4 linked regions of the Homo sapiens genome follow. The protein of the gene in region 1 interacts with the protein of each later gene in a biochemical or structural test. Each region holds a gene or a part of one and is shown in the gene's direction. Other genes may lie near its edges.

Region 1 (7,137 bases):
AAGCGATTCTCCTGTCTCAGCTTCCCTAGTAGCTGGGACTACAGGCGCATACCACCACACCTGGCTACTTTTTGCATTTTTAGTAGAGACGGGGTTTCACCATGTTAGCCAGACTGGTCTCAAACTCCTGACCTCAGGTGATCCGCCTGCCTCGGCCTCGCAAAGTGCTAGGATTATAGGCGTGAGCTACAACTCCCGGCCACATTTTAAAAATTTTTTTGTAGAGATGAAGGGGGAGGGTCTCTCTGTTGCCCAGGCTGGTCTCAAACTCCTGGCCTCAAGCCATCCTCTCACCTTGGCTTGCCAAAGTGTGGAAATCATAGGAGTAAGCCACTGCACCCAGCCTTGGCTATACACTGTTAAGTTATAGTGTCCACACCCTATATAGTCTTTAGTGCAGCATTATTATTAATAGGTTAATTTATGGCTACTTGTGACAATAGCAAGCAGTTTCAAGAGATGAATACATAGCTCAAAAGGGGGTAGTGGGACGTGATTGCTGTCTCATTTTAATGTCTAGGCCTGATAATTTAAAAGGATTCCCATTCCTCAGATAAAAGCTGTTTTTTCCATATGAATGAGTTCCTGCTCTAGAAAAAGGTAGAGGGGCCAGTCACAGTGGCTCATGCCTGTAATCCCAAAACTTTAAGAGGCTGAGGAGGGAGGATCACTTGAGGCCAGGAGTTTGAGACCAACCTAGGTAACATAGCAAGATCTCATTTCTACAAAAATTTTTTTTTTTTTGAGATGGAGTCTTGCTGTTGCCCAGGCTAAAGTGTAGTGGCAGGATCTTGGCTCACTGCAACCTATGCCTCCTGGGTTCAAGTGATTCTCCTGTCTCAGCCTCCTGAGTAGCTGGGATTACAGGCACACACCACCACGCCTGGCTAATTTTTGTATTTTTAGTAGAGACAGGGTTTCACCATGTTGGCCAGGTGGTCTCCTGACCTCAGGTGATCTGTCTGCCTCGGCCTCCCAAAGTGCTGGGATTACAGGCATGAGCCACCTCGCCCGGCCAAAAAATTCTTTTCTTTAATTAGCCAAGTGCAGTGGCATGCACCTGTAATCCCAGCCACTGGGGAGGCTGAGGTGGGAGGATGGCTTGAGCCCAGGAGTTGGAAGCTGCACTGAGTTATGATTGTGCCTATAATTAGCCACTGCACTCCAGCCCAGGCAACAGAGTGAAACTCTTTTTTTTTTTGAGATGGAGTCTCGCTCTGTCACCCAGGATGGGTGCAGTGGCACGATCTCAGCCCACTGCAACTTCTGCCTCCCAGTTTGAAGCGATTATCCTGCCTTAGCCTCCCGAGTAGCTGGGACTACAGGCGTCTGCCATCATGCCCGGGTAATTTTTTTTTTTCGTATTTTTAGTAGAGATGGGGTTTCACCGTGTTAGCCAGGATGGTCTCAATCTCCTGACCTCGTGATCTGCCCCCCTCGGCCTACCAAAGTGTTGGGATTACAGGCGTGAGCCACCACACCCGGCCTGAAACTCTCTCTTTTTTGAAACAAGGTCTTACTATGTTGCCCAGGCTGGTCTCTGAACTCCCGGCCTCAAGCAATCCTCTGGCCTTGTAATCCCAGCTAGGGCTGGGATTACAAGTGCACATCGCTGCAACCAGCAAGGCCTGGTCTATTTTTATCTTATATTATTTATTTATTTTTTGAGCCCTGGCTGGAGTGCAGTGGTGCAATCTTGGCTCATGGCAACCTCCACCTCTGGGGCTCAGGTCATCTTCCTACCTCATCCTTGAAAGTAGCTGGGACCACAGGTGTGAGCCACAACACTGGGCTAATTTTTAAATTTTTTTGTAGAGACAGAGTTTCACCATGTTGCCCAGGCTTGTCTCAAACTCCTGAGCCCAAGCAGTCTGCTCACCTCGGTCTCCAAATGTGCTGGTATTACAGGTGTGATCCACAGCACCTGGATGAAATTAATTTTTTTTTTTTTTTTTTTTTGAGACGGAGTCTCACTCTGTCACCCAGGCTGGAGTGCAGTGGCAGATCTCTACTCACTACAACCTCTGCCTCCCAGGTTCAAGCAATTCTCCACCTCAGCCTCCCGAGTAGCTGGGATTACAGGCACCCGCCACTGTGCCCGGTCTGTTGTTTTTGTTTGTTTGTTTGTTTGTTTTGTTTTTTTGTATTTTTAGTAGAGACAGGGTTTCACCATCTTGGCCAGGCTGGTCTTGAACTCCTGACCTCATGATCCACCCGCCTAGGCCTCCCAAAGTGGTGGGATTACAGGCGTGAGCCACTGCACCCAGCCGAAATTTATTTTTTTTTCTTTTGAGACAGAGTCTTGCTCTGACGCCAGGCTGGAGTGCAGTGGCATGATTTCAGCTCACTGCAACCTCTGCCTCCCAGGTTCAAGCAATTCTCCTGCCTCAGCCTCCCGAGTAGCTGGGACTACAGGCATGCGCCACCATGCCCAGCTAATTTTTTTTATATTTTTAGTAGAGACAGGGTTTCACCATGTTGTCCAGGATGGTCTCGATCTCTTGACCTCATGATCCGCCTGCCTCGGCCTCCCAACGTGTTGGGATTACAGGCGTGAGCCACTGCGCCTGGCCCAAAATTAATTTTTATAATGTATTTTTCTTAACCCAGTATACTCAAAATATTATCAGTTCAACATACAATCAATATAGAAACAAATTATTCAGGTATTTTACATGATTTTCTTCACACTAAGTCTTTGAAATATGGTGTGTATGTTAAACTTGTGACAGTTTGGACTGGTCACATTTGGAGTGCTCAATGTGCACCTGTAGCTGGTGGCTACTGTCTTAGCCACTGTAGGCCTAAAGTTTCCCTCAAAAGTGAGACCAAACTCAACAGGTCTCCCTATCTCAGGCCTTGCCCTCCTTGGCCCATTCTGAAACTCCACTGGCTACTAGTTATCCTTCCAAAAAACAACTCAAATCATGTCATCCCCCTGCTTAAAAGATCTCTGATATCTCCTGCCCTTCTAAGACAAAGTCCAAGCACTTTGGCATAATTTGAAAAACTCAACGACCTGACCCCAATTTCCTTTTTAAAAAATTATTATATATTTTTTTAGAGATAGGGTCTCTGTCACAAAGGGTGGAGTGCAGTGGTGTGATCACAGCTCACTGGAGCCTCAAACCCCTGGGCTCAAGCATCCTCCAGCCTCAGCTTCCTGAGTAGCTGGGATTACAGGTGCACCACCCAATTTCCCTTTTAAACTGCCCTCCCCTCTTCACCCTCTTCCCCACAATATGTGCCCATAATGCTAAGAACTTCTCAAACCCAACAAGCTTTTCCATCCTCGGTCCTTCTTGCATTTTTCTCTCTCCCCTTGAACATCCATCCATCCATCCATCCATCCATCCATCCATCCATCCATCCAAGGAGTACCTACTAAACCTCAGGTGGACGTTGGACTCAATTCAGGGGCTATCGGGAAACCTCTTCGACACTCTTACTCCTCTCCAACGCCCTTCCCCACCACCCACCTCTGCGCCCCCAGCTCTAAATTTAGCTCCCAGGACGCCGCTGGTTGGTTCACTCCTCCTCCCACACCCTCTCTAAAGGCCGGGAACGGAATTGTTAGCCCCTCCACCCCCACCCCCATCAAGGTCAAGAAATTGAAGCGGGGCGGGGGGCGGTGAGCATAACTACTCAATCCCCATTTTCTCATCTGAGGAACTAAGGCACGAAACAGGGAGTGCCGAAGGGTACACCAGGCCTGATGTCCTAATGCAGAAACCGGGCCTTCCTGCAGTGGGCCGGGTCAGCTCGGATCTCCGCGCGGTCCTGAGTCGCCGCCCCCAACCCAGCCAAGGATTAATTTAGGCGAGCTATCCCGCCCGCCATCCCCATATCCGTCCCTGCCAGCGTGGCGGGGAGGGACCCCGGACGGAGGGGCAGTCGCTGCGGGGCGGCGCCAGCGCCCGTGCGGAAGAGCCCGTGAGCAGACGGGAGTGGGTCGGGGGGCGGCGGGGGATCCCACGTGGAAGCAGCGTCCTGGAGCTGGGTGGGGCTGCGGCGCGGACTACAAATCCCAGGGGCGTGGGGCGGGAGAGGCGGAAGGGGCGTCCTGGGGCGGGGCGGCACGGGGCGAGGCGGAGCGAGGCTGGAGGCGCGGGAGGGCAGCGAGAGGTTCGCGGGTGCAGCGCACAGGAGACCATGTCCGGGGGCAGCAGCTGCAGCCAGACCCCAAGCCGGGCCATCCCCGCCACTCGCCGGGTGGTGCTCGGCGACGGCGTGCAGCTCCCGCCCGGGGACTACAGCACGACCCCCGGCGGCACGCTCTTCAGCACCACCCCGGGAGGTAGGCGCGGGCTTGGCGACGCCGCTTGCCGGCTCCTGGGCGGGCGGGAGGATCGGGAATCGCGGATTGGACCGGGTGTCCAGGCTCAAGGGCGCCGTGATTGGAAAGAACGGAAAAGGGGCATCGGAGAGACAGCGAGGGTCATGGAAGTGGCCGCCCGCTTCCCCTCTGAGTGCGTCTTCCAGACCCGAGTTACAAACTGCCCCGTTTGTTTCCTCTTTCTGTTAGGTGTCAGACAGCTGACACCTAACAAACACGCACGCCTCCAGGACAGCCACATGCCGAGCTGTGCTGCCCCTTGTGGGTGTTGGGGGCGCTCCCGAAGCGGGAGAGGGCGGAGTTAGGGTGGCCCACGATCCAGGAGAGGCCTGGCCTGGTGTTTTTATGGGATGGGTATTATCTGTTGGGATAAACGATTCCTGCAGGGCCCTTTTTCCTTCCCGAAGCACGCCGAGTTTTGTGTTGGACTCGCGCGCTCTGACTGAGGTTCGGATCTGGGGGTGCTTGCCTGCTCCAGCAGCGCCTCCCGGGCACCTGTGGCACGTTCCCCATTTACGCGAGTGGGATCTCCGCGGGGGGGACCCTGGCGCCACGGCCAGGGCTGTGCAGAAAAACACGTTCTTCTGTCCGGGGAGAGGAGGAGGCACCGTGTGACCTCCCTGGGAGAGGATGAGGAAGAGGAAGCTGAGCTGGCACGGGTGGGGGGGCCAGCCTCGGGCTGCCCTCAGGAACCTGGCATTCCCTCCCAGCCCCGGAGCCCCAGCGCACAGACGCTGATGAAACCTACGCGCCTGTTTGCATGATGAAATAAATCCTCGTGGCTCTCTCCTCCCCTCTCATTGTCGCACTGCCCCCACCCCTTTTTGCTCCTCTCCCTTCATTCTCCTCCACGCTGCTTTCCATACTACTAGAAAACGCGACAGATCCTGGCGCTTGGCTAGGTGGCGGGCGGGGGCCACATGCTTATTTTCTCAGGCAGCTGTCCCACCAGCAGCGAGCGCGGCCAGATCCGAGGTCCTCTGCTGTTTGATCCAAAACATACACTGTTAGAACGGTTAGGGATCTTGTCCAGCCCTGCCGTCTTATTCTACAGAGCCCGGCATTGAGGCCCCAGAGCTTGAACACGTGTCTGTTGCCCATTGTCACACCGTTTTCCCAGATTGGACAAGAAATAGCAACCAGGCAGAGAAGGGAGAAATGCTTCCTTTTCTATTAGAAATGAGCCAAGGAAAAGCTCGCAGGGGCTCTTGTTGCCATTCCCGACTCATCCTCTTTCCCTTGCTGGGTCTTTTGTAGTCCATGCTGTTCTCCTTTGTCTCTGTCACAATGGTCTACCAGGACAATTCCTGACAATTTTGGAGTTCTTTCAAATGAGGGTGTAAGTGTCTGCTGGATTTGTTCAGGGTGGGCCCTGAGGCCGGCCTGAAGGCGCAGGTAGCCCTTTTTTGCACTCTTTATTGCTGGATTGTTGGGTCAAATTGGAAGCCAGGATACTGTTTATAGGCACTTCTGGCCCGGGTACCAAGGTTCACACCTGTAATGCCAGCATTTTGGGGAGCCAAGGCAGGAGAATTGCTTGAGGCCAGGAGTTCAAGACCAGCCTGGGCAACATAGTGAGACTCCATCTCTACAAAGAAACAAACAAAACAACAACAAAATGTTGTCCTAGCTACTACAGAGGCTGAGGCCAGAGGATCGCTTGAGCCCAGGAGTTGGAGGCTGTAGTGAGCTATGATTGACCACTGCACTCCAGCCTGGGTGACAGAGCGAGACCCTATCTCTAAAATAAATAATAAATATAAAATATAGGAACTTCAAATCCACTTTTCACTTTGGGTTGGGAAGTGGGGAGTGGGCAGGGGGCTGACAGACCACAGCAAATCCCCTTCCCTTTGAAGGTCTTTAGCAGTAGGGGGAGTGGGGAAGGGACTTCTGCATCAGGGCATAGCATATGTTTCTGAGATCACTGGAAGAAGCTAGCAGTGCCAGGAGCCTAAAGCCAGCTCACTGTTTGGTCGTCCAGTGGAGCAGGTACAGCTCACAGTCCCTAAGCCAGGGAAACCTGGCTGACTTCCACTAAAGTCAAGCAAGCCTGGTCGGCCTCGATTAGCCAAGGTGTGGACTCTTCCTCCAAAGCCCACCTCAGCCCACCTCTGCCAGGGCAGAGAAGCCAAAATGGTCACATTGCAGCCAAAATGGTCACACCCTTTTGCTCCAGAGCAGAATACTGCCTCTCAGTCTTCCAGGTGCTTGAGGATAACTGGGGGCTTCATTTAAGTGCATATTCTGATTCTGTAGGTGGGGGTGGGAACTAGATTCAGCATTTCTTTCTTTTCTTTCTTTCTTTTTTTTTTTTTTTTTTTTGAGACAGGGTCTCACTCTATCACCCAGGCTGGAGTGCAGTGGCGCAATCTCAGCTCACAGCAACCTCCACCTCCTGGGTTCAAGCAATCCTCCCACCCCAGCCTCCCCAATAACTGGGACAACAGGCATGCACCACCCATGCCCAGCTGATTTTTGTATTTTTTGGTAGAGACGGGGGTTTCACCATGTTGACCAGGCTGGTCTCAAACTCCTGGCCTCAAGTGATCTGCCTGCCTCGGCCTTCCAGAATGCTGGGATTACAGGCGTGAGTCACCATGCCCGGCCTAGATTCAGCATTTCTAACTAGCTCTGACTGATTGGTGCACATACCACACTCTGAGTACTCAGGAATTAGTGAAACATAACTTCCCTCACCTTTCAGATCTCTGGAGTCTAGCAAAAAAAAAAAAAAGATGGCTCCATCCAGGTAAACTTTGATCTCTAAATCGTGGTGTGGAGAGCCAGGCTTTTGATAG
Region 2 (7,027 bases), on another chromosome or scaffold:
TAGACATATAAGGTGATTCTGTATTTTAACTATTGTGAACAGGGCTGCAATAAACATGGGAGTTCAGATATATCTTTGATATACTGATGTTCTTTTTTTGGATATATACCCAGCGATGAGATTACTGGATCATATGAAAATTCTCTTTTTAGTTTTTTAAGATACCTCCATACTGTGTTTCATCATGGCTGTGCTACTTTATATTCCCATCAGCAGTGTACCACCATTCCCCTTTTTCTGCATCCTTACCAGCATTTGTTATTTTTTGTCTTTTTGATAATAGCCATTCTGCCTGTGGTGAGATAATATCTCATTATGGTTTTGATTTGCCTCTCCCTAATGATTAGTGAAGTTTAGGATTTTTTTTTCATGTACCTGTTAGCCATTTGTCTGTCTTCTTTTGAGAAATGTCTATTTGGATCTTTTGTCCATTTAAAAATAAGACTTTTTTTTTTTTTTTTTTTTTTGCTAATTGAGTTTTTTTAGTTCCTTATGTATTCTGGTTGTTAATCTTTTGTTGAATGGATATTTTGCAAATATTTTCTCCCTTTCTTTATGTTGTCTCTTCACTTTGTTAATTATTTTCTTTGTTGTGCAGAAGCTTTTTAGCTTGATATAATCCCATTTGCCTATTTTTGTTGTAATTGCCTGTGCTTTTGAGGTCCTACCCCAAAAATCATTGCACAGACCAATGTCCTGTAGCATTTCCCCAGTGTTTTCTTCTAGTAGTTGCATATTTTCAGGTCTGAGATGTAAGTCTTTAATCCATTTTGAAATGATTTGTGTATATGGTGAAAGCTGTGGATCTAGTTTCCTTCTTTTGCACAGCCAATATTTGATTCTCACTGAAATCTCACTGCCCTCCTGGAAATATTACCGGATGTTTTACTGTCATAGCGAAGTGAGAGTAAGCTGCTCACTGAGGATCAAAGAGCTTGTGACAGACCTAAGACTCAAGTCTTCTCACACCTTCAAAATCTCTTTCCATCATACAATCTACTAGCTGCTGAATTCGCAAGCTTTTTGTGCAAGCTAGTAAAAAGCAAAATGGTTTGATACAAATACTGTGGCCATGCTAGGTACAATGACATCAATTTAAATTATCATTGGTCTTAACAAGGGGATGTAGAAAGGGGTCTCCTACTGACATTTTAATACTCACTTAAAAGTAGTATTTTTCCTTCAGATTTCTTTATATTATTAGTATAATTACTGTAAGTATCCTTTACTGCTTTATATGTTGAATTAGCTGGAAGTGCCAAAAGAAAAACTCTTAATGATAAATTTAAGGTATTAAGGTAAATTTCTCCTTCATTTAATTTAATAGTAATTCTTAATTACTATTTAAAATAAAGATTAAGGTTTGTTTCTAGATGCCATTTAACATGATATTCCAGACTGCCAGTTTTATTTTCAAAGTTTGTTTCATATTTTATTAATGTTTCTTCATAAATGACAGTCTTTAGAAAATTGACGGTTAAGCTAGGTGCTTTATATTTTTCTTTTCCTGCCTATCTTTTCACTGTGCTCCTAAATTTTACATCTCTTTATTCTCAAGGGTTCAACCTTTGAAGAAGGGGAGCAAAATAAATGAAAGTGGCTAAAATTTTTTCTTTAACCCCTAGACTCTTTCCTGTTGTGCATTAATTACATGCTTGAGTTTTTAGAATAATTATAATAAAGTAAAACTACCAATTTAATTGTATTGTAACTGTGCAAGATGGGAACCTTCTCTCTTAGAGAGATAAGCTTTTAATTGAATAGATTAATGGATCAATTGTTACCTCTGCTTTGCTGCCAGAGATTCTATTTAATCACAGAAGTTCCATGTAGTGCTGGAGAGCTCAGTTGCCTGAATCTTTTTGCAAAGCGTTTACTGATACTGTTGCTTCACCAACCAAAACAAACAGGTTTTTTCCTTGAGTCAGCTTTGTAGGTACAGAGATGAGTTTGGCATCCTATGTGACTTTTTTTTTTTTTTTTTTTTTTTTTTTTACCACCAGAAGCTGTTCAGAATGTTATTTTCTTAAATAGTTCGGAAAAAAGTCTTGATGTATTCTATGAAAGCACAAAAATAGTCAGTTTCTATGACAGCTGGATTGTCAACGTCTGTTCAGCTTACGTGGAGGAGGATGTCCTACTTGAGTAGTATAGGTAGAAATAGCTATCAGAAATTGCCGCCTTTGAAAGCAATTTGAAATTATGTAAAAGGAAGTAATGACAAAATAAAGCAATTTATGTTTAATCTGGAAAAGATCCAAAAGTAATATTGTAAAGAGATCTTGAGTAATCATTTTTATCTTCCTAAAATAGCCGTTGTTTACTCCCGTAAGCGAGTAAGAAACTTGTGCCATTATTCCTTATTGGGTGCATATAGATTTCTCACCTTGTCATTCAACTCCTTGCAATATTCAACTTTACTTATGCATCCAGCCTTATCCCAAAATAGCCTCTTCCCTGTAGCAGCTTCCTTATCATGTAGCAGCCTACTCTCCTCACCGCTCATCCGTTCTTATACAATCTGGCTTAAGCTCTACCTCTTCATATTATATTCTTCTCTGAGTAATTTCAACTCACACTGAGTCTTACTTTCAGTATTTCTATTATATTGGTATTTATTACACATCACACTTAGATACTTTTCCATTAGTCTCTAGAGGGTACATATATGCACTTTCTCTTTTTTTTTTTTTTTTTGACCATGTCAAGTATAGTTCTATAGTATAATAGAATGAATTGGAGATCCTTTACATTTAGAGAGGGAGGAGTCTACAGTAGGAAGAATAGGTTAATTTTCATCTCCGGTTTGAAATCAGGACTTTCAATTTTTTTTTCAGAGGTAAAGAGCAACTTAGTCAAGTTGGCATCTTGTAAACAGACTGAGTGAAGATATACTTAAAATGCATCTATAATTTCATATTTTATTTCGAAATGTGAAAGAGCCTACTAGGGGTGTCTGTGATCTCTAGACCTTATCAATTCATTCTAGAGAAATCTGGAGGGAGCCATTGAGGAGTTCTACCTCCTGTCTATTTTATAGAGCTCTTTCTCTTTTTCTCCTATCAGATGTAGATTCAATTGCTAAAAATGCCACGTTTCTTGCCTCTATTATTCTAGCTTCATTACTTGGGGAGCAGCCATTCTGATAACTTACATTTTGCTACTAAAATCTCCAACTTCACCTAATCCTTCATTATAAGCCACTTCATTTTTTCCTATAATTAAAATTTTAAATATGTGGAGGAAATTCTGTCAGGTAGATATGACTTAAAACCTACTAAGGGCCAGGTGCAGAGGCTCACGCCTGTAATCCCAGCACTTTGAGAGGCCAAGTCAGGAGGATTGCTTGAGCCCAGGAGCTTGAGACCAGCCTGGGCAACAGAGCGAGACCCCTGTCTTCACAAAAAAAAAAAAAAAAAAATTAGCTGGGTGTGGTGGCACATACCTGTAGTCCCAGCTACTTGGGAGGCTGAAGTGGGTGGATCACCTAAGGACAGGAGTTCTAGGCTGCAGTGATCTATGATTGCACCATTGCACTCCAGCCTGGGTGACAGAGTGAGACCCTATCTCAAAAACAAAAACAAAACCAAAAAAAAAAAAAAAACAAGAAAAAAAAAGTACTAAGGATCTGGTATAGCCATTCTTGCACTTAATAATCTTGGTACAACCTCTAAAACTATTTTTTATAGTTTATTTTATTTTGCCTTATTTAGACAATTGGCATGTCTATGTTCTTCATAATTTAGAAATTATATGTATTTATATATATAAATTATATATATTATATATTATGTATAAATTAAATTATATATATATATAATATATATATATTTGAAATGGATTCTTGCTCTGTCATCCAGGCTAGAGTGCAGTGGCACAATCTTGGCTCACTGCACCCTCTGCCTCCTGGGTTCAAGCGATTCTCCTTCCTCAGCCTCCCGAGTAGCTGAGATTACAGGCGCCCATCACCATGCCTGGCTAATTTTTGTATTTTTAGTAGAGACTGGGTTTCACCATCTTGGCCACATTGGTCTCAAACTGCCGGCTGAAATGTTGTATTTTTTGTATGTCTTTCTGGTATGATTTTTGGAGAAAGGTGTATCCTAAGAATACGGCTTGCTTTTGTTTCTGGGTAAGCATTTTAGGGTATCATTTTGTTGTATAACCATTGTTTACAAGTGAGATAAGCATCTATTCCACTAAGATTGAAGAGATTCATGTTTGACTGAGTATGCTCTATTAACATTCTTTAAAACATGTGAATATATGTCTTTCTTGTTTTCAGGTGGGTTGGTCACTTCTGTGCAAATTAATAGAAGTCTGTCCAGGTACAATGCAAAGCTTAATGGGACCCCAGGATGTTGGAAATGATTGGGAAGTCCTTGGTGTTCACCAGTAAGTATGATAGATATGTAAAACAAATGGCCTTGAGTATTTATTTGTACACATGACAACCTTCCCTTGATACACTGTGTTTGCAATCCAAGGCTACTCCTGTGGAATTCTTTAAAATACAGATATTTTTCCTTGAGTCAATGATTTACATTTATAGAGAGCTTTAAACTCAGAAGTTTGATTTAGAAAGCAAACATTTAAGGTAACATGTCAGAAGTTATTATTTTAATAATATAATCATATAATTATAAAACTGGTTAAGTTGTAGATTTTTGATGAGTACTTTTGAATTCAAACCATGAAGAGATTTTGGCTTTTAATAATAGAATCGATACAAACCACTAGTTCTTAAAAAAATGGGAACTGAGAAAAGTTAGTTCTGTAAGTAGTAATTTGAAAGTTGATGTTCTACTGTCTTTAAATAGTACATTTATATATATATTCCTATATATACAGTAAGTTTAAACTATGGCTTTCAGAAAGAGTTAAGAAAGAGGAAATTAACTTTCAGCACATCTGTAGCCAAATCTTGATAGTAATTTTACCAGCTATGTTTTTGCAGTTTGCAGCATAATGGCTTCTTAGATGAGACTACTTCCTTAGCCATCATTAATTAAGAAAATATTTTCTCAAGAAGAATGTGTTTCCAGGAAAATACATTTTGGATAGCTTTGTTTCTTGACAGTTAAAAAATATCTTCTAAGCTACTGAGGAGGCTGAGGAAGGAGAATCACTTGAACCTGGGAGGCGGAGGTTGCAGTGAGCGGAGGTTGCAGTGAGCCGAGATTGCACCACTGCACTCCAGCCTGGGTGACAGAGCGACACTCTGTCTCAAAAACAAACAAACAAACAAACCTTTTGTCATTAACTTTAAATCTTTTTTATACCTAATATGACTTTTCTTTATCACAGAAAAGGAAATTGTGAATATTTTTTGGCTTCCAATGGTATATGGTTTATGAAAATTTAATTTATGAAAAATTTTCAGGTGTTTGTATTGCTGATCAGTGTCAAGTAGTGCTATAAATTTAGACAAATTAGAGCTATGTGTTTGTCCATAAGTGAACATGTCTGTGCTTATACATTTTCCCCTCTTTGACAAATGTGTTGCTCTTCTTGTTTTCAGTACATAAAGGGTGTGTTTTGGAAAGAGCATATTTACAATTAATTGGAGTTCTCGTCTTCAATCTAATCTCTGTAATTCTATGTATCAGTTCTAAAGTATACAGCATTTGATGAGGAATTACTCAAAATATACCAGTAATTAGGAATTGTAACTTTAAATGTCCCTTGGTTTGGGTGATAATTTCCAGGAAGTCCAAAGATGAGCCAGTCTATAACCTCAGGGAGTGTTTGGGAAACTCATCTAGTCATATTCCTGTACAAACCAACTGTTCAAATTAAATTACATAAAAGTTTATGTAGGAAATTTCATTCACTCACTCACTTACTCATTCACTCACTTTGTTCATCCAGTCATTCATCTTCTATTCATTGAATGTTTTTGAAGCCTGTCCTCTGGGTCAGAAACCATGCAGTTGTGAAGAAGATAGACACACTGCTGTCTCCAGTGGAGTGTATTAGATCACTCCCAGCAAAAATTGATTGTAAAACAGATTTCTCTTTTTTCAAGGCCTTTTCCCTCCAAAGACTTACCAGTACTGAAGAAAAATTTCTTCCGTGGTAATAAAGTCAGGAATTGTGGGAATGGTATAGGGAGAGGTAGGGGCAGGGTGATTAGGAGGAAGGCTGGCAGAGAATCGAAGACTGGCTTCATTCAGGTCCTCCAATTGCCAAATGGAGATTATGCAACGTTTCTTGAATACATACAAAACTCTAGATGTGGCCAGCTCAGTCTTCTTCCAATAATGTAAAGCCAAACAATGCTTTGCAGGAATAGACTAGAGATTATATTTTGGGATTAATAACATAGGGATTAAAATCTTATCTTGAACTAACTAAACATTATTGATATGCTAAATTCACTTTTTTTTTTTTTTTTTTTTTTTTTTTTTAGACAGAGTCTTTCTCTGTTGCCAGGCTGGCGTGCAGTGGCGTGATCTCGGCTCACTGTAACCTCTGTGTCCCGGGTTCAAGTGATTCTCCTGCCTCAGCCTCTCGAGTAGCTGGGACTGCAGGAGTACGCCACCACGCCCAGCTAATTTTTGTATTTTTAGTAGAGACAGGGTTTCATCATGTTGGCCAGGATGGTCTTGATCTATTGACCTCATGATCCCCCCGCCTCGGCGTCCCAAAGTGCTGAGATTACAGGCGTGAGCAACGGCCACCGGCCCACTACTTTTTAATATATCATTAATTTCTCTTTTAAAAACAGTAGCAATCAATAATTTAAATATTCAAATGAATTCTTAATTTATATACACAAACTAACATCTTTATTATATCTCTATATTTTAATATATCAACATGTCTAAGATAATTTATAAATTTACATCATATATAAAAATGGGTTTGCTCTCGATGTATATAAGGCTTCATGATATTTTGAATATGGAGTTGGGTGAAAATAGTGAATCTGAATATTTGAATTTGAATATTTATTGGAAAATAAGTAGTGCTTTTAACTTTTTAAATGAGACACATAATAGTCCCCTGTTGATTTTTTTTTATT
Region 3 (7,027 bases), on another chromosome or scaffold:
TCTTCTGAAGATAAGAACTTTCTTAGGGGTTCTAGATTGTTATGTAACTTTTCACTAATTTCTAGGTATCTGGTGACCCATCTCATGGGGGCAGATCTGAACAACATTGTGAAATGTCAGAAGCTTACAGATGACCATGTTCAGTTCCTTATCTACCAAATTCTCCGAGGTCTAAAGGTACAGATAATACAAGTAATAATTTTTTAAAATGAATTCTCCCTTTCTCCCCTCCTTTTAGGGCTTAAACAAACAAGTAAACAACTTTTCTAATGGAAAATTCAAACACATAAAATCACAGGTAAAGGTCATATAGTACAGTAAACTGCCATGTTCACTCAGTGACAACAGTTACCGACATATGGCCAATCATGTTTCTTTTGTATTTCCCAAGCCCTGGATTATTTTAAAGCAAGTCTAGACATTATATAATACCATCCATAGATACTTCAGTTTGCATATCTGAAAGATAAGGACTCTTCATTCTTACATCTAAACAATAATTTATTGATGTAATCTAATATCTGGTCAGCGTAATGTTGAGATTTTCAAAAAATCCTCAAGAAAGACTAATTTATTTGTTGGAGGGGCAGATAAACAGTGTTTTAAAATTAAACCCATCTTTGATATTTAGCTGCTTTGAGTCCTTATTGAGCTCCAGAGTGCCAACCAGAAAATAGATTAAAAGCTCAACTGAGTGGAGTCAATGGCTGTGGAAATTATAGTAATGGTAAATGTACACAATACTGATAGTTACTTATGCTGATTTCTAATCTTACTATTAACACTAGCAGTTCTTACTGATTCATGAAAATGTGCAGCAAATATGTTATATAATATGACAATAGAAGGTTGGAGGTAACTTTGACTTTTTTCTCTTTTGCAGTATATACATTCAGCTGACATAATTCACAGGGTATGTATTGTGACTTTGATTACATTATTTTGGGGAAGTGGGGTGAGAGTGGAAGAATGGCATTTAGCCAAGATCCTAATCTAAACTTTAGCCATTGAAATGTTGATTGATTGCAACTTTACTGTAGGTTTAAGCTGATTAAAGAAAGAAGATGTGTAGTTTTTTTCTATGTAAGGCTAACTTGGACTGGATATTGACTGTAGGATGGAGATTGTCTTTTGATAGCTGGATGAAGTCTTTTATGTCTGGATCCTCATTATTACCTGTAGGGGGAGAATTGATCATGCATCATAAAGTTGATCCTGTCTTCCCTGTATTTGCTTCCTAGGACCTAAAACCTAGTAATCTAGCTGTGAATGAAGACTGTGAGCTGAAGGTAAAATGAAGAGACAGTATTCATTGTTTGCTTTACTTTGAGATTATATGTTTGACTAAGCAGGCAGACTTTCTTAGGGAGTAGCTTTGTGAGCCATGACTATCTGAAATTCGTATTATTTTTATTATCAGACTTTGAAATTTAAACCATTTCTGAGTAAGCTAAGTGACATTGAAAGTGGCATCACTTGTTTTTATTTTAACATAAAGTTAAATTATAAATTTGATATATTAGTCATAATAAAGGAGGATAATAGTCAAATATCAAGTAAGTAGGCCCAAAGAGGTGATAACTAGATTAAATACATTTCTAAGAGGAGAAATGGCAGAAACCCACTCACTCAAAATAATTCAAATAAAAAATAAGTGAATTAATTGTTTCTAAATAGCAAGCAGCTCTAGAACTTTTGTTCCATTTCATTTTTTTAACTTGAAAAAATGTCTGTACATTAGAATGCACCATTTCATTTGGCAAAATTATATATCCACTTAACTCACATTTATGATAAAGACCATTTCTTTTTTTTTCCTTTTTTTTGGGATGCAGTCTCACTCTGTTGCCCAGTCTAGAGTGCAGTGGTGTGATCTTGGCTCACTGCAACCTCTGCCTCCCGGGTTCAAGCGATTCTCCTGCCTCAGCCTCCCGAGTAGCTGGGACTACAGGTGCACGCCATCACACCCGGCTAATTTTTGTATTTTTAGTAGAGATGGGATTTCACCATGTTGGCTAGGATGGTGTCGATCTCCTGACCTCGTGATCCACCTGCCTCGGCCTCTCAAAGTGCTGGGATTGCAGGTGTGAGCCATTGCTCCCAGCCAAGAACATTTGGATTACTTTAAAAAGTTTATGGCCAGGCGTGGTGGCTCATGCCTGTAATCCCAGCACTTTGGGAGGCCAAGGCGGGTGGATTATGAGGTCAGGAGATAGAGACCATCTTGGCCAACACGGTGAAACCTCATCTCCACTAAAAATACAAAAATTTAGTTGGGCATGGTGGCGGGCACCTGGAGTCCCAGCTACTTGAGAGGCTGAGGCAGGAGAATGGCGTGAACCTGGGAGGCAGAGCTTGCAGTGCGCCGAGATAGTGCCACTGCACCCCAGCCTGGGCAACAGAGCAAGACTCCGTCTCAAAAAAAAAAAAAAAAAAAAAAAAGTTTATTGTGTCCCTTCCTAGTCAATCCCTACCCCTCCACCCCTAACTCTGGCTCCAGGCAACTATGGATCTGCTTCTAACACTATAGATTAGGTTTATCTTTTCTGGAGTTTCATGTAAATGGAATCATATAGTGTGTATTTTTGTGTGTCTGGCCTTTGCTTGGTGTAATGATTCGGTATTGTTGTGTGTGTCAGTGGTTTCTTCCTTTTTATTGGTAATAGTATTTTGTTTTATGAACATAACAGAATTTTTAAATCTATCCACCTGCTGATGGACATTTGCTTGAGTTTGAGGCTGTGTAAAGCAACTGTGAATGTTTATGTGCAAACCTTTGTATGGACGTAAGTTCTCATTGCACTTGATTAAATACCTGGGAGTGACATTTTTGTTTTGCTTTTTGTAATTTCATTTTAAGTTCTTGCTGTATATTTACCATACATTCTAAGTATGGACCAGGAAATCTCTTTATGAAAGTGCTATTTTGTTCTCCTTTTTAATAAGGCAACAGAGGTTTGTTTGTTGTTGTTGTTTTGTTTTTTTTTCCCTGCCTGTTTCTAAGTCTTAGCAGTTTGTCTGTTCCTCTTCTGCCCTTTAGATTCTGGATTTTGGACTGGCTCGGCACACAGATGATGAAATGACAGGCTACGTGGCCACTAGGTGGTACAGGGCTCCTGAGATCATGCTGAACTGGATGCATTACAACCAGACAGGTATTACTCGCCTTGGTTATTTAGGGCCTTATTTAATTCCATGTTGGATGCATTTGGGATTCTCAGAAATAGAGATGGTGGGAGTGGGAAGAAATGTCTTTTCTTCCCTCAGTGATCCTTTTAAAGCCTGCAAGTAAAAATATTTCACTTCCTCAGATGGGGAAGTGGGGTTTTATACACAGCTTTTAAACCTTGTGATTTAGCAATTGGGTTTTTATTTATTTAGATTTTGAATATATTCTCTGAGTACTTATACCTAAAGACAATTAGTCCATAATTTTAACCCCTCAATGTTACTTGGAAGAATCTACCATTCTACTAATAAGAAACTTGCCCCTTTTTAAACAGCTTATTTCTCTTAAGTGTGTTTTGACTTACCCCACCTTTGAACAGCCCTTTAGTCAGGTGAAGATCTTAGTAAGCTATTTATTTCTGTAAAAATGAGTATGATTGTTGAGCCTCAGATGTCTTAAATAGTAATTTGAATATTTCACCCCTAGTTACGGTTTCATTTGTTGCCAAGAATTGTAACAGTGACATTGCATATACTTTTACTTCTTTTTAATTTTGCCAGTTGATATTTGGTCAGTGGGATGCATAATGGCCGAGCTGTTGACTGGAAGAACATTGTTTCCTGGTACAGACCGTATCCTTTAAAAAGTTTTGGATTCTTGTTTCTTATCTGTATTCCAGTGTCCATGGGTGTATACTCCTTTTACTTATCTCTAGGGAAGACTCTCAGTATTTTGCTTTTATAGTCTAGATAATGCATTATGAGGTCTTTCTTCAAACTGAGTAGCTTGCCTTGCCAAGAAAGAGGCTTCAGTTTACTTTTGTGAGTTGGAAAAATTCCTCATAAGTTGAAAAACCCATCAAGTCTGTCTTCTTTTTGCAACAGTCCCTTATTAATCATCCCACAGCAGTTCTGAGACCTGAGCATACTCATGAGAAACTCCAGATCCCAGTGACAGTTTTAGTCTTCTTGTATAAACACTTAATGAGCACAAGATGCCCATTTATAAATGAAGGGCATCTTGCTGTTATGTTTATGTATTAAAAGGGCTATGTTTGGTACCTGCAGTGATATACTGCTTACTTGTTATGTTTGTTGTTTGACAACAAATAGTAAAAGCAAGAAGTGAAAAGCTTACCATGTAATGTACTTTTGTTTTTCCAGCACAACTTTTTCCCAGATTGCAGCCAAACCCTAATTTACTCCAAGACTTACTGTCTAGTTTATGGTTTATTATAGCCCCTTTATTTTAGCTCCTTTCCTATCTGCGGTATGCTTGTTTCATGGTTTAGTATTAATGTCATGAAAAATGTGGTCTGTTGGAACTCTCATCAGTTCTACTTATGGAAGATGTTTAGGTGAGAAAGATTGTTAAAATATATGTCTAGAATTAGTTTTGGGGATTTTTTCTTTTTTTAATAGAATTGAGTTAACTAGCCTTCAGGTGGTTTTGGTTAGGCAATATTAGACATGCTACCTCTGATCTATTATGCCTAGAGATCTAAAAGCCATTTTAGTCCCTTACCTAAATAAACTAATTGAGTTTATAAACCAGAATGTCAATTCACTTGCTTACAGTTTGGGATATACTTCTGTAATGGCTATGATGTTCATGATATCTACCCACGTGTTCTAACTATCTTCTGCTAGAGAGAATGTACTTTCATTATGAACTGAAAAAACCTCTATTTCTCAGGTAAAGCTGTTTCTTTCTCTCTGAATATTAGGATTGATAACAGAGTTCAGTCTCCCTGTATTTAGCTTACCTTATTACTCCCTACCTCTGGATTTTAAATTAGTTTAATACCTGGTGTTTCTCCTTTGTCCTTTGTTTCATTCACCTTATATCTGTTTCTCAGAAATTTGGTATATATATATTACAGTCCAAGGTAAGAGAATTAGGGAAAATTCATACTTCCCCCTTTCCTCAGGTACATATCTCAGAGTCCCATCCTTGCTTTGTCCTCTAGAGTAGCTGCTGTCCTGATGCTATTCTCTGTTCCCTGCTCCCCTTCCTCTTCTTGTGTCTGTATCTCCAGCTACCATTTAGTCAGTCACAGACCTCCATGCCGGTGTAGACACACAAGGTGGCAGAGAGGGAAAGGCAGTATAACATACAGGTTAAGCACATGCTCTGGAGCCAGATTTCCTGGATTTAGATCTTAGCTCTTTTATTTCCAGCTATGTAACTTTGAGTAAGTTTCCTAACCTCTATTTCTCTCAGTTTCCTTAACCGTAAAATGATAATAATCATACATACTCACAAGGTTGTCGTAAGAATTCAGCCAGAAAATAACTGGAAAGTACTGAGACGAGCCTGCCAGTAAATGTTAGCCATCATGTTCAGTAATGGCCTTGCAAAACAGATTACCCCTTCACCTTCTCACTTAATTGTCTACCTATGAATCATTAATGTTTTGTTTTGTTTTTAATTCTGTGATAGGTAGGAAAGGATGGAACTCCTTGGCAGACTAGTGTTAGAAAGTTTTCGAAGCAGTGTGAGTCTTGTACCTTTGTGGTCCTGTCTCACAGACACCTGTCTATTCCCTGACCCTTTTAAATGCTAACTTTCTGCCTGTAGGAAATCTTCCCTTTGTGCTTAGGTCTTTTTCTTCTGTGAGCTTTAGATAAACAACCTAGTGTTTAAACTTTTTAATAAGGGATTCATTTTTTAATACATGAGAATTCATTTCAAAATTTTGGTTTTAGTTATTTATTTTATTCTACTTGGCTCTTTTTCAGACAGATGTTCTCTCCTGGATTGTAAAAGTCGAATTCAAAGGATTTTTATTTGTAATATACTTAACCTTTCTCTTGTAAGTTGCCATCTGTGTAGATACAGCTTTGATTGCCTGACAAGAGGAAAATGTTTCCCATTATCTTTTCCTGCCTGAACTATACGGTCACTTGTGTTCCAGCATAGTGGTTCTTAACCCTCATAGTGTGTCAGAATCACTTTGCAGAGCTTTTAAAAACTCTAGATGCCTGGGGACCACCCCAAAGACTCCATTTTGTTGTCATGGGTCAAAGCACAGTCTTCTAGTTTGCAGCTAGTGTTGAGTACAACTAGAGTTTAACCCAGTTGAATTTTAGTTTAATCTTGGCTGGTCTTGAAGATGTTAGTAATCTCTATTCATTTTTTTTGAAAAGTACCAATGAGATCAGAAAGTTAATTAGAAAACATCTAGTTGAATCCCCTGTTTTTAATAGATGGGGAAACCAAGACCCAGAGAATATAATCCAAAGCTACCTGTCACATAGGCCACAATTTCTTTTCCAATATTCTGTTCTTCGCTGTTCTTCTAATTTGCAGAACTCCTCTTTAAAAAACCTTTGGAGAATGTATTGGCCTCATACCCTCTTCCTTCAGCCTGAAAGACATGCACCTGTCACTTATTTATGATATTTAAATGCAACCTCTAGAACAGGGGTGTCCAATCTTCTGGCTTCCCTGGGCCACATTGGAAGAAGAAATGTCCTGGGCCACACATAAAATACACTAATGATAGCCGATGAACTTAAAAAAAATTGCAAAAAAAAAATCTCGTAATGTTTTCAGAAAGTTTACAAATTTGTGATGGGCTGCATCCAAAGCCCTGGGCCACGTGCAGCCCGCAGGCCCTGGGTTGGAAAAGCTTGCTCTAGAAGGTACTCATTGTTTGAGTGTCCAGTTTTCTCCCTGTTTTCCTTATTTATTGATCATTTTGCATTTGGAATTGGTGGTTTGGGCTTGTAAGTAAGAACTGTGTACTAGAACTTTTGTGGTATTGCAAATGTTTTATATCTGTGCTATCCAATGTGGTGGTTATAGGCACCAGCTGCCTGTGGCTAATTATTAAGCAACTGAAATGCAGCTAGT
Region 4 (7,027 bases), on another chromosome or scaffold:
TTTAAAGAATAGGGTATAACACTTATTTACATAGCATTTACATTATAGTAGGTATAATATGTAATTAGAGATTTATGTATAACCTGTGCACATTCTCCTATTACACGTAATCTAGAGGTTATGTGTAATACTTTTTGGAAATGTTTAATAAAAGCACAATCTAGAGGTTACGTGTAATAGGAAAATGCCCTGCCATTTTAAATAAGGGACTTTGAACATCAGCATTATCAAGGTGTCTTGGAACCAATTTTCTGCAGATACAGAGAAACTACTGTAGTTATTTTTCCTAAAAATTGTTATTTATGATATATAGTAGATTTATTATTTTTGAATAAATTAATACATTTTAGATTTTTCTCAGTCTTTCTAATATGATATCATATCTAATATCAGTAGATATGGTCCAACGATCGAAAGTTCTTTGGGGTCTTCAATAATTTGTTTGATTGTAAAGGAGTTCCGCAAAAAGTTTGAGACCTGCTGTGGTAGGGTCATTTAGAGAGGAATTGAAGTTTTGGTTCCTAGCATTTTTGTTACTGTTCCTTCCCTATCAAGCAACTAAAAGAGCTTTCATTTCTTAGTCATCACTTTGTCATCTTACTCTCCCTGCTTCCTCTTTCTTATTTCTTTCAATAAATGTCCCTGAAGGATTGGGTAGTATTTCATAGTTCAGTTATTTGGGAAGGATACTATTCATATAAACTAATTGTGCAATATGCCTTTTCTGTTCCTTTAATAATGTTGGTAAATGAAACCTTTGCCAGATGCCAGCTTTTCCTTCACTGGATTGTGATTTTTTTGACAGCTATAATTATGCATCAAGTCATCCCCAGTAGGGGGTCCCTCATTTCCTTGCTGACATGTCCTCATTACTACAGGCAGTATTGAAGCAGGACTAAAGATGGAGGCATTCTTTATGATAGGTCTGATGAATATGTTCTTGTTTCAGAAGAGTATTTAGAAGGGCTGCTTTTTGTAATGTCAGAGTATTAAAAATTTTTTTTGATGTTTGTCATCTGTGACCTCTCTGCTAATAACTCTTAAGAGCTCTGACCGCATAGCATTTTGTAGTTTTCTAAATTTTGATCCATATGTAGGATTATTTACAAGTTCTAGTCTTGTCACTACAAAAGTTCCTTTGTATTATTATAATATTATATCGTAAGTTCCAGAACTTACATAGTTTTTTTTTTTTTTTTTTTCATTTCTCTTGCTTACATGAACTCTATGTCGTGGCATTCAGATCAGTCACACATAGACAACTCTCTGAAGTATATATTAAGTGGCAGAAACACTCCCAGCTTCTCAAGGACAGTGATTTTAGTTTTCAGGAGCCTATCATGGCTCTACGCACAGTCATTTTGGAGATCCTGATGGAAAAGGAAATGGACAACTCACAAAGAGAATGTATTAAGGACATTCTCACCAAACACCTTGTAGAACTCTCTATACTGGCCAGAACTTTCAAGAACACTCAGGTAAATACAATTTAAAACTATGTCATCTTACCTCTTGACTTTCCTTTTATTATTTAAAAAACAGAAAGCCTGAGGGAAAAAGAAATGTCATTAAGAGATAGAGATCTCTATTAATATATAGTAAAAATAATTGTTTAAGAGTTCCCATTTTGGAATTAGATCTGACTTTTAAGCCTTGGGCAAGGGTACTTAATCTTTTCTCAACCTCAATTTCCTGGTTATAAAATGAGAAGATACGTAACTTACTATATTGATAACAATTCAGTGATTTTATATACTGTGTGTATGTACACACAGATACACATACATACATATAGAGAGAGACAGACAGACAGACAGATAGGCAGACGTGGGGTGGGGAGATGTCATGCAGACAGAGAGGTCCTTAAGATAGTCCCTGACAAGTAGTTAAGTCCTCAATGAATGGTAGTTGCTGCTTTCATTATTATTATTATTCATGGTAGTAGTATCAGTAGTAAAAGTATTTATTCCCATATGTCATTTTCATTTCAGCTCCCTGAAAGGGCAATATTTCAAATTAAACAGTACAATTCAGTTAGCTGTGGAGTCTCTGAGTGGCAGCTGGAAGAAGCACAAGTATTCTGGGCAAAAAAGGAGCAGAGTCTTGCCCTGAGTATTCTCAAGCAAATGATCAAGAAGTTGGATGCCAGCTGTGCAGCGGTTTGTTTTTTTTATTGGCTGGATTAGTGTTTTACTGTTATTTAAAAAAACACAAATGTACTTTAAAATATTTTTAATAACAATTTTATTAGAGCCTTGAAATTAGTAATTTATTAACAAGATATTGTAAAACTAGTCTTGAAAATTAATTTGTAAATGAAGTTTAGAAACTTTTTCCTATATATCACAATTCTATCAGTCCATCATGTGGTCGATTCATTTAATATATCCCAGTATTAAGCCTTTAACTTCCTATAGAATTCAAGAAAGGTATGTGGGAAATGAATGAAATAGCTACTCTAAATTTGAAATGACAAGTGAAAAAAGGGAAGAGGAAATGAATGAGAGAACTAAATTAGAAAATAAAAGCAAGTTGGGACAATTAGGTTGTCAATCCAAATGCTTTGAAAATATCACATCTAATATTTTATCTAACATTACCTGTTGGTTTTTGCAAACTTATGTTGCTACTTCAGCTGTAAACCCAGCATACACACTGGATAAAGTAGAGGCATTGGTGTCCCCAAGGTTTGTCTACAGTGGTGTCCCACAGACATGTACCTGCTTAGTGAATATCAGCTCACTGTGCTTTATTATTTATTTATTTATTTATTTTTTGAGACGGAGTCTTGCTCTGTCACCCAGGCTGGAGTGCAGTGGTACGACATCGGCTCACCGCAACCTCCACCTCCCTGGTTCAAGCAATTCCCCTGCCTCAGCCTCCCTTGTAGCTGGGATTACAGGCACATGCCACCATGCCCAGCTAATTTTTTTGTATTTTTAGTAGAGATGGGGTTTCACCATGTTGGCAAGACTGGTCTCGAACTCCTGAGCTCAGGCAATCTACCCGCCTTGTCCTCTGAAAGTGCTGGGATTACAGGCGTGAGCCACCACGCCCGGCCTTTACTGTACTTTTTGATGTTGGGCACTCATTGTATAGCATCTTCTGTTATTAGAGAAATCATTATACCAAAGCACTGAGTGCCAATATGATATGTGTAAATATTGCTTAATAGTATTGGCCCTGAAGTATGTGCTGTCTGGAGTTACCCAACTTCCTTGTACCTCAGTTTTCTAATCTGCAAATTGGGGTAATAATAGTACTTATTTAATAGGATTCTTGTGAGAATTAAATGAGTTAATATATATAAAGCCTTTACAAAGTGTCTGACATATATAAGTACTCAATAAATGTGACTTGCTCCAATAATGGCAATAATAATAATAAACAGAGGATGATCATTTCCTACATGGGATTATTAAAATAGTTGTATGGCAAAAGCAGATGAGGAAAAACTTTTTTTTTCCCACCCACCAAGGAAAAACATTTTTAACCTGCTTTTTTCCCCGTACATGAAGGGCAGTTGGGTACAGTCATGGTAATGCATTATATTTTAAGATTTTGCCTTTCTTATACAGAACAATCCCAGCCTAAAACTTACATACACAGAATGTCTGAGGGTTTGTGGCAACTGGTTAGCAGAAACGTGCTTAGAAAATCCTGCGGTCATCATGCAGACCTATCTAGAAAAGGTAAGATTTTTGGAGCAACCCTTAAGATAGTTACTTAGCATGAATATGCTTCATCTTTTCATCAAGATCAATATATTTCCAAAGCAAATAAAAGTATGGTTTTATTTTTCTATATATTATTACTGTTGTAGCTCTGTATAGTCTCTAGGGTGGAGTGAAACATTGTTACAAAACAAAGCAGCCAATTTTGAAAGTAAGCCCAAGTATAGTATCTCTTCTTCCTCCTTCCTACCTCCACTACCAGCTACCCTTTCAGCAGGTTGCTTCTGATCATTTCTTCATTTATGCATCTACAAAAATAACTGATTAAGAATAGGCAAGTCAGCCCTTGCTCTTCATTAGCCCAGCCACCCACAAGTAAAGGCTTCAATATACTAGCCCCTTTGACTTTCCTGTTTCTCCCTCTTATTCCTTTAGATTCACTAATTTTGGAAATAGTTACCTCACTAAATAAGTGTAACATGAAACACATGATGCGATTGTCTTTCTTTTCTTTTCTTTTCTTTGAGATGAAGTCTCTCTCTGTCGCCCAAGCTGGAGTGCAGTGGCGCAATCTCGGCTCACTGCAACCTCTGCCTCCTGGGTTCAAGCGATTCTCCTGCCTCAGCTTCCCAAGTAGCTGGGACTACAGGAGTGTGCCACCACACCCGGCTAATATTTTTTATTTTTAGTAGAGACGGTTTCGCCACATTGGCCAGTCTGGTCTCGAACTCCTGACCTCAAGTGATCCACCTGCCTCGGCCTCCCAAAGTGCTGGCATTACAGGCTTGAGCCACCACACCCAGCCTGATTGTCTTTAAATTTTATAAAGTTCTCTGTTTTTGCAGAGTTCTTTACAAGTATTAGCTGTCTGGGTTATTTCTACACTGTCAAAGTTGTTTTGAAAAGTCAAGAAAATACCATAGTTCAGGGCTGTCCAATCTTTTGGCTTCCCTGGGCCACATTGCAAGAAGAATTGCCTTGGGCCACACATAAAATATACTAACATTAATGATAGCTAATGAGCTTAAAAAAAATCACAAAAGAAATCTCATAATGTTTTAAGAAAATGTACGAATTTGTGTTGGGCCACATTCAAAGCCGTCCTGGGCCACATGCGGCCCATGGGCCGTGGGTTGGACAAGTTTGCAATAGTTCATATAATTTAGCTAGCTTTTATATGTATATAAGTTAAATTTTAGTGTATTACCTTAATTTGAGTGATTCTTTAGATGTATTTAGTATTTGTAAATATAATTTAAATTGGTTGTGTTTTCTTGAAGGCAGTAGAAGTTGCTGGAAATTATGATGGAGAAAGTAGTGATGAGCTAAGAAATGGAAAAATGAAGGCATTTCTCTCATTAGCCCGGTTTTCAGATACTCAATACCAAAGAATTGAAAACTACATGAAATCATCGGAATTTGAAAACAAGCAAGCTCTCCTGAAAAGAGCCAAAGAGGAAGTAGGTCTCCTTAGGGAACATAAAATTCAGACAAACAGGTAACTAGGTTTCTACAAGTGACAATTTTATGTTCACCAGTTAACTGAGTGAGTGTTTTTGCATAGAAAGAGTGACTTGGTCTTTTTATCTGATATAGTTTTGAGCTCTAAAGGTCGGCTTAACTATATATAGATTATCTTGGTCTTTTGGGTTCTTTTCGGTTTTTGTTTTTTGTTTTTTTTTTTGAGACAAGGTCTCACTCTGTCACCCAGGCTGGAGTACAGTGGCGTGATCACTGTACTCCAGCTCACTGCAACCTCGACCTCCTGGACTCAATTGATTCTCCCCCTGAGCCCCCGAAATAGCTGGGGCTACAGGTGCACGCCATACCTGGCTAATTTTTGTATTTTTTGTAGAGATGGGGTTTTGCCATGTTGCCCAGGTTGGTCTCAAACTCATGGGCTCAAACGATCTGCCCACCTTGGCCGCCCAAAGTGCTGGGATTACAGGTGTGAGGCACTGTGCCCTGTCTGTCTTGGTCCTACTGTAGTTAATCACAAATTAGTATGTAAGATATTGACGTGTTCTTTTGTGAATAATTCATGCTCTGCTTCTAAGTTCATTGTGGAGAATATAGATATTAGCTTTCTGTTTTGCTTTTTTGGTTTGTTTGTTGGTATCATAGTGGAAAAGGAGATAGATATTGAAATTAATTACAAAAGTTACCTATTTTGATGTAATTAAATCCCTTTATTTAAGCCTGTCTTGAATCTGTATATTTTAGTGTAAGCAGAGGTGTAAGTTAGCTAAATAGCTTGGGGAGAGTCCCCTTTGTCCTTTGATGCTTAGGAAGGTGTGTGAATTGCACAGTTAAGACAAAAGTAAGTTTATTCCCTTTATAATCCTTAGAAGTTTGCTTTTTTCCCTGGGATAAAAACCCAACTTTTTTCATTAAATGTTGTATATCATGTGTGATTTTGTAGTTCTGTTAAAGTTCATGGCTTTTGTGTTTTACCTTAATTATTCTATGCAAGATACACAGTAAAGGTTCAGCGAGAGCTGGAGTTGGATGAATTAGCCCTGCGTGCACTGAAAGAGGATCGTAAACGCTTCTTATGTAAAGCAGTTGAAAATTATATCAACTGCTTATTAAGTGGAGAAGAACATGATATGTGGGTATTCCGACTTTGTTCCCTCTGGCTTGAAAATTCTGGAGTTTCTGAAGTCAATGGCATGATGAAGGCAAGTGTTACTCAGCCCAATATTCTACCCTGTGCTTGAAAAACTTAGACATAAGCCCCTTGATGTCAGGAATCGTGTATACCTCTTTGTATTCCTAGCACTTGGTCCAGTGCTCTACACATAAGTAGCATTTTGTAGTTTTCTAAACTTTGATCCATATTTAGGATTATTTACAAGTTCTAGTCTTGTTTCTACAAAAGTTCCTTTGTATTATATAAGCTGACAAGCTGTAAATGATGCAAGTTTGTGTGGAGGTGATAGAATTTAGCTTGGTCCTATGTCTTTGCAGTTACCATAGGAGAGGGTCTAGAATGGGGCATTAGATTGGAGGATTTAGAAAGCAGTTAAAGATGATGTGATCACAGGTGGGTTTTCCCCCTGCTGCAGAAATATGGGATTTTTACAATAAATTACTTTTGTAAGTAGAGAAAATATATTTTTCAGAAAATGTCAAGACAGCAGTATTGTATAAGTTTTTCTTTGAAAACCTTAGATTATAGTGATGACACCTAATATTAAATTTAAGTTGACAAGCTATATATTGTTAGTCAATTTGAAGGTTAGAGATAAAATGTTTCTCCTGCAGGAAAATAATAAGACTCATAATAGATACAGTCAATCTCTGCTGTAGTATACACTAAATATTACTTTTGGCCTATGGGGAAAAGCAAT

The links.
Region 2: of the proteins of EIF4EBP1 (region 1) and LRRK2, one has a biochemical effect on the other in vitro, tested with the Homo sapiens proteins (3 studies listed by BioGRID).
Region 3: of the proteins of EIF4EBP1 (region 1) and MAPK14, one has a biochemical effect on the other in vitro, tested with the Homo sapiens proteins (one study listed by BioGRID).
Region 4: of the proteins of EIF4EBP1 (region 1) and ATM, one has a biochemical effect on the other in vitro, tested with the Homo sapiens proteins (2 studies listed by BioGRID, with this or other methods).

The regions. Positions count from the first base shown.
Region 1 is NC_000008.11:38,026,422-38,033,558, forward strand, and holds the start of EIF4EBP1 (eukaryotic translation initiation factor 4E-binding protein 1), read left to right. Parts: upstream 1-4,112; 5' UTR 4,113-4,152; coding exon 4,153-4,297; intron 4,298-7,137. UniProt on the Homo sapiens protein: Repressor of translation initiation that regulates EIF4E activity by preventing its assembly into the eIF4F complex: hypophosphorylated form competes with EIF4G1/EIF4G3 and strongly binds to EIF4E, leading to repress translation.
Region 2 is NC_000012.12:40,227,989-40,235,015, forward strand, and holds part of LRRK2 (leucine-rich repeat serine/threonine-protein kinase 2), read left to right. Parts: intron 1-4,285; coding exon 4,286-4,395; intron 4,396-7,027. UniProt on the Homo sapiens protein: Serine/threonine-protein kinase which phosphorylates a broad range of proteins involved in multiple processes such as neuronal plasticity, innate immunity, autophagy, and vesicle trafficking.
Region 3 is NC_000006.12:36,072,808-36,079,834, forward strand, and holds part of MAPK14 (mitogen-activated protein kinase 14), read left to right. Parts: intron 1-65; coding exon 66-177; intron 178-883; coding exon 884-913; intron 914-1,241; coding exon 1,242-1,289; intron 1,290-3,040; coding exon 3,041-3,155; intron 3,156-3,729; coding exon 3,730-3,801; intron 3,802-5,027; exon of another isoform or gene 5,028-5,057; intron 5,058-7,027. UniProt on the Homo sapiens protein: Serine/threonine kinase which acts as an essential component of the MAP kinase signal transduction pathway.
Region 4 is NC_000011.10:108,324,067-108,331,093, forward strand, and holds part of ATM (serine-protein kinase ATM), read left to right. Parts: intron 1-1,243; coding exon 1,244-1,478; intron 1,479-1,991; coding exon 1,992-2,159; intron 2,160-3,578; coding exon 3,579-3,692; intron 3,693-4,954; coding exon 4,955-5,172; intron 5,173-6,147; coding exon 6,148-6,355; intron 6,356-7,027.